2 separate regions of the Homo sapiens genome follow, and region 1 is linked to region 2. The links come from fine-mapping of genetic effects on gene expression. A gene starts in region 2. The other region holds a variant in brackets. All regions are shown on one strand. Distances are from middle to middle.

The links. PIP is the estimated chance that this variant, and not a neighbour inherited with it, causes the effect.
Region 1: its variant is fine-mapped to the expression of AVIL in whole blood (INTERVAL, PIP above 0.99).

Annotation. Positions count from the first base shown.
Region 1 is chr12:57,593,848-57,599,222 of GRCh38, forward strand. PIP4K2C (phosphatidylinositol-5-phosphate 4-kinase type 2 gamma) reads left to right here. Exons shown (of 10, transcript NM_024779.5): 2 at 178-275; 3 at 1,279-1,375; 4 at 2,041-2,184; 5 at 5,218-5,364. Among named protein-coding and RNA genes, the nearest start is that of PIP4K2C, 5.3 kb to the left of the region's middle. The variant T/TAA (reference allele first, on the strand shown) is at 2,656.
Region 2 is chr12:57,816,301-57,821,675 of GRCh38, forward strand. It overlaps AVIL (advillin), which reads right to left and starts at 2,434. Exons shown (of 20, transcript NM_006576.4): 1 at 2,329-2,434. It overlaps CTDSP2 (CTD small phosphatase 2), which reads right to left. Exons shown (of 8, transcript NM_005730.4): 8 at 3,627-5,375.

The DNA.
Region 1 (5,375 bases), 220 kb before region 2:
CTTGGGCAGCAGAAGGGTTAGACACATTCTCTCACTTCTGTCAAGCATATGCATAGCCAGTGTTTTTAAAGGAATGAGGTCTGAGTGGCCCTTGCATGACTGCTGCCCAGACACAGTGTATGGGTAGCTCTCCACACCCTTCTTCATGGCTTCCCTATTCATGGTTTGGCTTATCAGATCAATGAGCTCAGCCAGGTGCCTCCCCCGGTGATGCTGCTGCCAGATGACTTTAAGGCCAGCTCCAAGATCAAGGTCAACAATCACCTTTTCCACAGGTAAGTGATGATCCTTGCCATTCTCATGTCAACCTTCCCAGAAAGGAGTAATAAATAATTTTAAAAGTTTCAGTGAGTTGAAAATTTAACATCCTTCCCAAATGCAGAAATTAGTTTTGTGCAAGGAAACCATGAGAATAATTTCTGGTGTTCCCTATATCCTTATATGAATCAGTGTTATCTCTCCTCTAGCCTGGCAATTCCATAGAGTAAATATGTACAGATACCATTACCTGCTCTTTCTCTCTTTTTCTGCTTGTGACCTTGGAGATGCCATGAGAACCATTAGCTTCTGACAGGGACTCCTTGAAAGAAAAACTTGAATTCTCTACTAAGCCCTCCTAGGAAAAGAAGATGCCATTCAAAACAGTGGTGTCTGTTGCTGACTTTAGAATGCTTCTGACTTGCTTGAGATTTGGGAAATGCTGCTGTTTGGATGGGTAGTAGATCCTGGCTCTACTATACCACTTACCAACCATGTTACTTAGGCAGGTCACTGAATCACTCTGAGACAGTCTCCTCTTCTATAAAATGGAAATAATATGTTTTTATAGGACCTCACAAGGGCCAGGCGTGGTGGCTCATGCCTGTAATCCCAGCAGTTTGGGAGGCCAAGGCGGGTGGATCACTTGAGGTCAGGAGTTCGAGACCAGCCTGCAAACATGGCAAAACCCTATCTCTACTAAAAATACAAAAAATTAGCCAGGCATGGTGGCGCATGCCTGTAGTCCCAGCTACTTGGGAGGCTGAGGCAGGAGAATTGCTTGAACCCGGGGGATGGAGGTTGTGGTGAGCCGAGATTGCACCACTGCAGTCCAACCTGGCAACAGAGTGAGACTCTGTCTCAAAAAATAATAATAACAAATAAAAATTAAAAAAAAAGGACCTCACAGGGTTTTATGAGAATCAAATGAGGTAATATGTCTGAAGGTACTTTATAAACTACCAAGTGTATGTAAATGTAATATTGTTTGTTTTCTTACTTTGAAAACCTGAATTTCAGGGAAAATCTGCCCAGTCATTTCAAGTTCAAGGAGTATTGTCCCCAGGTCTTCAGGAACCTCCGTGATCGATTTGGCATTGATGACCAAGATTACTTGGTGAGAGTCCATTAAGGGGTGAGGGTAGCCCTTTCTCCCCAGCAACTGAGGAGTACTATTTGGGACAGCCATATTTGGAGAAATGAGAGTCTTGGCAAATATAATTCTTTACCTTTTTGTGATTGCAGCATTTTCAAAAATTTAATGAAAATTATAAACCTTGTCCTTGGGGGAAAAGATGTAGATACATTAAGAATTTTGGCCAGGCGCTGTGGCTCACGCCTGTAATCCCAACACTTTGGGAGGCCGAGGCGGGCAGATCACCTGAGGTCAGGAGTTCGAGACCATCCTGGCCAACATGGCAAAACCCTGTCTCTACTAAAGATATGAAAATTAGCCAGGTGTGGTGGCGCACGTCTAGTCCCCGCTACTTGGGAGGCTGAGGCAGGAGAATCACCTGAACTTGGGAGGCGAAGGTTGCAATGAGCTGAGATCGTACCACTACACTCCAGCCTGGGTGACAGAGCGAGACTCCTTGTCAAAAAAAAAAAAAAAAAAGAATTTTGCATTCAGTTTCCTTCAGTCCACATATGGACACCTGATGAGGAACTGTGCTGAATCTCCTACCCCAGGGATTCATCCACTTTCAGCTGACCATTTTCCTATGACTTGTTTCTGCATATAAAGAGGGAGGAAAAGAGCTCTGGCCTATTCTGTGTCCCCAGGTGTCCCTTACCCGAAACCCCCCCAGCGAAAGTGAAGGCAGTGATGGTCGCTTCCTTATCTCCTACGATCGGACTCTGGTCATCAAAGAAGTATCCAGTGAGGACATTGCTGACATGCATAGCAACCTCTCCAACTATCACCAGGTCAGGCCTCTCTCTAGCCCCATTCTTTCCCTCTCCTCCCTACTCACATATAGCTCAGCTATTGTCAGTAATAGATGCCAACTGGGGAGAAAACTCATTGGAAGAGAGAATCCATAATCATATCCAGCCCTAAATGGGATGAGGGAAGCTATTCTGTCTGATAAGATTTACAGGCTGGGGGCAGTGGCTCACACCTGTAGTCCCAGCACTTTGGGAGGCTGAGGCGGGAGGATCACCTGAGGTCGGGAGTTCGAGACCAGTCTGACCAACATGGAGAAACCCCGTCTCTACTAAAAGTACAAAATTAGCTGGGCATGATGGCTCATGCCTGTAATCCCAGCTGCTCAGGAGGCTAACGCAGGAGAATCACTTGAACCCGGGAAGCGGAGGTTGTAGTGAGCCGAGATCGTGCATTTGCACTTCAGCCTGGGCAACAAGAGCAAAACTCCGCCTAAAAAAAAAAAAAAAGAT[T/TAA]AAAAAAAAAAAGATTTACTTGGAATGTGGAGTTTATGGAATGTTTTGGCAGTAAAAACACTCTTCTTGAACATCTCTACTGAAGAAAAATTTCACCAAAATCAGTGAGCAAGGAATACATCAGAGTCCAAAAGGAGTCTTTGGTTTATGCAACAAATATTGAATACCTCTTATTAGGCCCTATGTTAGGCAGTAGAGTAGGAGGTAAATGAAACATCTGTGGCCCTTACAGATCCCTTGGTCTGATGGCAGTGACCAGTGACCCAGTATTAGCACACCGCAAGATATATACAATAGTAGAAGTCTGTACAGAATATTCTGAAGCTAGTGAAGAGCATCCGAACTCACCTGGGGAAGGAAATGCACCTGGGAGGCTAAAGAGAGTTTTTTAGAGGAGATACTGTAAGAGTTGATCCTTGAAGGACTAGTAGAGGTTAACCATTGGACAGGGTGGAAGAGCATTCTAGGCAAAGGAAAACAGCACTTGTAAGGCACAGAGCCATGAGAGAACTTGGTGTTAGAAAACAGCAAGAAATTCCATTTGGATGGGATGTAGTACTGTGGAAATAGGCAGGAGCCAGATTGTAAAGAGGCTTATAAGCCCCACAAAGAAGTTTGGACTTTATCCTGAAGGTGGTTTTGCAAGGGGCGTGATATATTTGTTATTTAGAAATATTTAGAAAATGTGACAGCGTTTTAGAGAATGGATTGGTGGGAGGGAACACTGGAAGGGTGGATACCAGTTAGGAGGTAATTTTAATAGTCCAGGGTAGAAACAATGAAGGCCTGGGGGAGCGATGGTGGTGGGGATAGAAAGGAAGACCTATGGGAGAACTGAGAGTTAAGACACAGGGGCCTCCAAGTTCCTGGTTAGGGATAACTGGGTGCCTATTCACCAGAAATTAGAAACAGAGGAACAGGTTTTTGGAGGAAGAAAGTTCTGATTTGGACATACTGAATTTGAGGTTTCTGCAATTCATCCAGATGAGGATGTCCAGTAAGTGGTTGGGGTATGTGTACAGAATTCAGGAAAGAGGATTAGACTGGGAGTATAGGTTTGAGAATTATATGTGAGTAAGTGATCATTAAAACCATGGCTATAGATACGATTATTGTAGGGAGGTTGTGTGCAGTGAAATGAAAAGAAGGTTGAGGACAGAACCTAAAGGAACAAGTGAAGAAATGAGCCCATAAAGGAAACTAAGAGTAGATGGACACTTTTAATTATTTATGCCATGCTACATTCCATACGGGATTCGACGACAGAGAGGAGGGGAATCAGGAGGGTGGTATAATAAGAGCTGAGGATGAGGAGACTTTTAAGGAGAGACTGGTCAATAGGATCAAGTGCCACAAAGCTGAAATATGACAATGACTAGAATACTTACTAGATTTGACAACTGAGGGATATGGGGGAGATTTCAGAGGAGAAATGAGGTATAAACCTGATTTCAGTGATTCAACGTGTGAATGAGAGACAGGAAATGGATTTCTTGCTGATTACTTTCCTGAGAAGGTTGGCTGTGAAGAGAAAGAGGCAGCAACACAGAAAGAGAGATGGTAAGCACTGAAGGAGTAATTTTTGTTTTTTAGAGACAGGATCTCACTGTGTTCCCCGGGCTGGTCTCAAACTCCTGGGCTCAAGCGATCCTCCTGCCTCAACCTCCCAAGTAGCTGGGATTACAGGTGTGAGCCTGGCTTAACAGGAGAATTTTTAAAAAAGAATCCAAATTGTAGGCCGGGTGCAGTGGCTCACGCTTGTAATCCTAGCACTTTGGGAGGCCGAGGTGGGCAGATTGCCTGAGTTCAGGAGTTCGAGACCAGCCTGGGTAACACAGTGAAACCCCGCTTCTACTAAAATACAAAAAATTAGCTGAGCGTGGTGGTGTGCGCCTGTACTCCCAGCTACTCGGGAGGCTGAGGCAGGAGAATTGCTTGAACCTGGGAGGAGGCGGGGGTTACAGTGAGCCTAGATTGTGCCACTGCACTTCAGCCTGGGCAACAGAGTGAGACTCCATCTCCAAAAAAAAAAAAAAAAAAAATCCAAATTGTAGGCCATCATGCAGACTTTTTTTTTTTTTTAGGTATAAAAATCTGTATTTATATTACAGTGACAGAATGACACAGCACAGCCCAACCCAATGCAGACATTTTAAATTATGGGAATCTAGCCTATGAAGAAACACTGCTCTAGATAAAATGATTTCATTGATAAGATATAAGTTGTAATCCTGGTTCTGTGCCACTTGCATATAGAAAGGGTCTAAAATAAGGATAATAACACTTAACCTTCCTCATCTCAAAGAATGATAAAGGTGAATTGAGAGATGACACTTAAAAATTAAGAGATGTACAAATGGAAGGAATCAGAGGAAAGGGGGATTCAGAAACGGCATGGATAACCTGGAGTGTTTTGGGGAAGCTTCCACCACTTTTGACTTTGTAATCTCTCTACTTGAAGTCCTCTGCTCTACCCTGGAATGGCAGTGTTTGAACTTCCCTGGGCTGTTTGTGTATCTGCTACTCAGCCTCTCCCCATTCCTTCCCCCTCTTTCACTGTAGTACATTGTGAAGTGCCATGGCAACACGCTTCTGCCCCAGTTCCTGGGGATGTACCGAGTCAGTGTGGACAACGAAGACAGCTACATGCTTGTGATGCGCAATATGTTTAGCCACCGTCTTCCTGTGCACAGGAAGTATGACCTCAAGGTAAGAAGAGG
Region 2 (5,375 bases):
GCTCTGGTAATCGTCATGGTTATTTACCAAAGGGGTGATAAATATGTTAAGCCCTGTATTGATTCACTTTGCATATGTTATCTCTAATTTTCAGAAGGTGAGTTTCTTCATCTTACATTGTGTGAATCTGAGGTTTGCAAAGGCTGAATAACTTGTACAAGATCACACTCTAGAATGAAATCCTTATCTGATCCCCAAACCTGTGCTTCTAGCCACTTTGATGTACTACAACCCTTCCTAAACCAATCTAAGTTCAGTGGCATTTGGAAAGAAAAGCTAGTCAGAAAAAATATTTCCAAACTCAGTTGCCTTCTCTCACTCTCATTCCAATTCTTCCCAAGTTCCCTGCTTGCAAGGCCTTCTCCACAGTCAACTTTGACCTTCTCTTTGGCTTTTGTCCTTTTTTTTTTTTTTTTTTTTTTTTTAGAGTAAACTATTCTTAAACTCAAACAACCCTTCCTTCTTTTGTCACTACTATATTCCCTGTGCTTTCCAGATGCAAGGAAAGTAAAATGGCAGGGCTGGGCCTGGGACAAAGGGTTCTGGGTGCTAGCAGGGTGTGGCCTGGTCTGGCCTGCGGACAGATGGCTTCCTTTTTCCCTCCCACACAGACCCAAGCTTCTGTGTGGAAGCGTGAACCTCAGACACTTAGACGTCTCCAGTTCCTTCAGGATTGAGCAAGTCAGGGTGGGGAGAGGGGGGAAGTGGTAAAGATCTAAGTCTGTGTAGGTCGTGTACCATCTGTATTCAAGGAGCATCTTGGGTAATTAAGCACCTACCCATGTCCAAGGCCACGTAGAGGCTTTATAGAATTAAAATACCTGCTCTCAAGGAGCTTGAAATCTGATAACATGCATAATTAATGTAAAGCTAGATTAATTTCTCCCAAGAGGCAAAGGAAAAAGGATGGGGTTGATGGATTTATGTAAGATTTAAAAATTCACCCAGAAAGGACTGTATGCATTTTTGCTGTTTGGGGACATACTGTTTGTTAAGAGGAACATGTCTGACCATTGTTTTCTTGAACCTTGATGGACAAAGCCAAGTTTGGAGAGCATGCGCCATCTAGTATGGACTTTGGCAAAAAACCATAAAGCTCAAAGCAGACTCGCTTTGTCTACTGCTGTAGCAGGACTAAAGCAAGGCAATGGTGCGGAGCAGCCAGTGTTTGAGAATTTAATTTGATAACTTGTGCTGCCCCACCCTGTGCTGCTCAGAATTGCCAGGAAATATGGTGTTTGGGTTTTCTTCAGACCCTACGTAGCAGTCATTAAAGGCAAAAGCCATGAGCCAACTAGGGGAAGGGGACAAGGGCCACTGAATTCATTCCTTGGAGACAGAGAACTGTCACCCTGGTAAAAGCCAAACCAGCCGGCAGCAATTAGGACTGTGAGCCTCAGAGGCTGAAACCTGTCCCGTTTCCCAGCAGGAATTTAGGAATCAAGGAGCTCCCTGGGCCAGGCACCCCGAATGCGAGAGGATAAGCTCCAGGAAGGGACTTCCTGTCACACTGGAACACACAGAAAACACAGTTCTGACATCAAATCTCCCAAAGCTGGGTCTCTCCTTCTCCCTAAATCCTAATTCAGTATCCTTTGAGAGGACTGCAGAAACCCCTTGGGTGTGGGGCACAGTTTTGAAATGTCAGGTTAAAAGCCAGTGGCCTGTAATTCTCAGAGATGCCCTTTTGGACGGACCCTGAGCAGAGGAAGCTGTTTTTTGTTGTTGTTGTTTTTGAGACAGGGTCTTGCTCTGTCACCCAGGCTGGAGTGCAGTGGTACAATCACGGCTCACTGCAACCGCCACCTCCTGGGCTCAAGTGATCCTTCTGCCTCAGCCTCCTGAGAAGCTGAGACCACAGGTGTGCACCACCATGCTTGGCTTTTTTTTTTTTTTTTTTTTTTTTTTTTTTTGTAGAGACAGGGTCTCACTATGTTGCCCAGGATGGTCACAAGTTACAAACTCCTGGGCTCAAACAATCCTCATGCCCTGGCTTCCCAAAGTGTTGGGATTACAGGTGTAAGCCACCTCTCTGGGCCAGGAAGCTGGTTTTAACTCCTCCTGCCTTGCTCCATACCATCTTTCTCTAGGGATAGGTGAAAGGGGTCTGTCTTTCCCAGCTTTTGAAAATGTGCCCTATATGTTCAGCTGCCTCTAAGGGGTTCTTCTGAACAAGAAGTTTGCAAAACTGGCCAGCCAGACTCCTGGTTCATTTTAAAAGCCTCATCTCAGAAGACAAAGCCAAGGGACTCTCAAGCTCCTCTTCCTTTCATTTCTTCCTCATTCAGGAGGATTAACTGGCATGCCCCCGTAAATCAGAGACCTTACCTTGCCTTCTCGCTCACCAGCCTTCCCAGTTTCCCGGCGCGTAAGCAGCAGCAGTATTGAAGAACCACTCCAAAGCAGGAGGCTCCAGGTCCTGCTGCCTTAGCTTAGTAATGGCCGCAGAGATACTGGGTTATATTTGCTTGTGTTTGCATCTTAACCGCATTTTCCTAGTCCTGGCCAATCAGAGCCAACCTAGCACTGAGCTTGGCTTATTCAAACCAGAGGGAAAGCTTTATCTGTGCCTATTCAAAACAGCAAAACAGAAGAGCAGACTTTTAAAGGCTTCTTTGAACTCCAGCTCCACGCCCTGATCTAATTGATTTTTTAAAAAGTGCACACAGCCCATCAATAATGCAGGAAAGAGGTTGGAAGGATATGAAATTTGCCATATTGTAGATATGGATGCATTATGGTGATGACAGGAGGAAGAGGCTGGAGCTGCCCCATGAGTGCCTGTGATGTCTAGGTTGGCAAGAGCCTCCCTAAGAAGCTTCTGGCATTTCTCAAAGGGAGGGGAAGTCTGGGAGAGGAGCCAGAATTTTATTAGGCCACAGTTTTGCTCGTTGGGGTCTCTACTAGTCATACAGTAAACCAATCAATATTTGAGTGCCTGCTGTTTGCCAGGAACCATGCTGGGCTCTCAGCTTCAGGGTTTCCAGTTTGGAAGAATCAGTGAGGGGCAGAGAAGAATCAAGACTCCATTCCCAGGGCTGGGTGTGGTGGTGGCTCACGCCTGTAATCCCAGCACTTTGGGAGGCTGAGGTGGGTGGATCACAATGTGAGGAGTTTGAAAACAGCCTGGCCAAGATGGTGAAACCCCATCTCTACTAAAAATACAAAAATGAGCCGGGCGTGCTGGCAGGCGCCTGTAATCCCAGCTACTCAGGAGACTGAGGCAGGAGAATCGCTTGAACCTGGGAGGTGGAGGTTGCAGTGAGCTGAGATCATGCCACTGCCTCTAGCCTGGGCAACAGAGCAAGACTCCATTTCAAAAAAAAAAAAAAAAATAATAATCCATTCCCTTAGGGCTTCTGGTTCATGCCCAGAAGTCAATAGGACATCAAGCATATACACGTGCTAAGCACCTGACTGCAATGGGGTTGATCACAGCAGAACTTGTGTAACCTTGAGCGGAAGCCCTGTGTGGCATCTGCAGCTGGCCTCCCGGTGGGTGCAACACCCCACTCAGCCCGGGGGTGCAGCTGCTTCATGATGGAAGGGGTTGCGAGAAGAAAGGCGGTGCTTGCCATGGGCCCAGTGAACACTTAAGGGCCAATGAAGGTTGGTGGCAGCTCACATTCCTGGAAAGGTTTTTTAAACCCACTTTTATTAATTAATTGTAAGTAATACAAATATTCCAAAAATATAAACAGACACTTAATGGCGTCCTGCATTTCAAGTTTTTGAATACAACAAATTTATCAAACCATGAATCTGTAAGCAAGGTAGTCAGAATCCCATAGCCCAGTCACAGTGGGAAGCAGATCCCCTACCCTCCAAATGGCATCTTGAAGGGGGAAAGCGGCACGAAATGGAACATGATAAGCAAAAAAGCTCACGAGGCCCAAAGAGGAGGGTCCGCTCCATGGGCAGGCCCTACAACGTTAAAAGAATGGGGCAGCTGGCCCGACCTCTGGCCTCCTCTTCCCTGGCTGAATGTAAATATTTACCAGCATTTAGAAAAAAGGAGAAAAAAGACAGAACTAAACCCGTTTAGGAAAAAGGGACCGAGGGACAGCAGTGGTTAAGTAATCCACTGAGGACCTGAAGGGGAAAATGGACTTACCTTTCTCATATACTTGGCCTGGCTAGGACACTGGGTGCCAGACAGCCTTCTGAGGGGATTTTCTTTCTAAATGAGGCCTCAGGAACAGGTAGGGGCAGCAGAATAGAATAGCATCCATTTCCCAGAGAAAGACTGCCTTTACATTTCCCATGCTTTTAGCACAAAGCAGCGTCTGGGCCACTGTTACCAGAGGTGAGTTTATACATTTACAAAATGCTTAAAATCTTTGGGAAGCAAGAGGAAGCTAAACAGAAGGTCCCATGTTAACTGAAGGCAAATTCACTCAACCTCTCTAGTAAGGGACCCATGGGCCTACAGAGTGTTCCCTCTACAATGTGCAGAGTGGAAACCCTTACCTGACCCTTTTCCAAACTGGTCCTGTGTCCAAAGCTCCCCCTATGAGAGGGACACGAACATCAGGCTTTTGATTTAGAAGCCCAATCAGAGAGACACACTGTGTCCCTGAAGAGGCACCTTAAAAGAACTGAACCTGGCAGGTAGGCAGATTCCTGGCATGGCTTGAATTGGTGCTGACCAGGCATGGTGGCCTATTGCCTCCCAAAGACCAGTCTCAAGTGGGAGGGGCTGATGGTGGGAAGCCCTAGAAGAGAGTCTGGGATGAAGCGGCCTCCTCCCTGTCTTGCCCTCCAAAATTGAGTCTGGCCTGATTCCTTTGAGGAGCAAATTTTACAATCATCCCTCACCCTAACACACGGTGAAACTGGAAACCCGACAGCAAATAATGACTAGGCTGGCTCTGGTCCACAAGAACAGACCCTGGCTAGGTTTGGCCGAGTAGCTTCTCTGGGGCAAGTGGGAATGGCATTGTTGGGGGGGAGTTGCAGGTGGGCAGGCAGGGTTCTGATGGGAGTGAGGCCTAAAAAGCAGGGGCTTCATGCAGATGCAGCAGGGACACTCCCACCAAGCCATCCTGGGCTTTGGTCATGGGTCCCACGCCAAGCACTTGGACAAGTCTGTTAGGAAAGGGGGTGGCACATGCTCTTCCGCCATCTGGAAAAACATGGAGATCCAAGGGAGGGCGGAAAGGGTCCTTGCAACTCAGTCAGCTTAGAGCCTCTTATTGCTTATTTAGTCAGAAAAGCCTGGCTGGGCCTAGACGGCAAAAGATTTGGCCAAGGGCTAACCCTTAGGGTGGGGCTTGGAAGAGAGGCCCCTCCTGCAATATTAGGATAGCAGCCTAGGTCAGGCCTTGGGTCCGAAGCCACAGCTGGCTCTAAGAGTCTGAGCTCCTGCTTTCCTT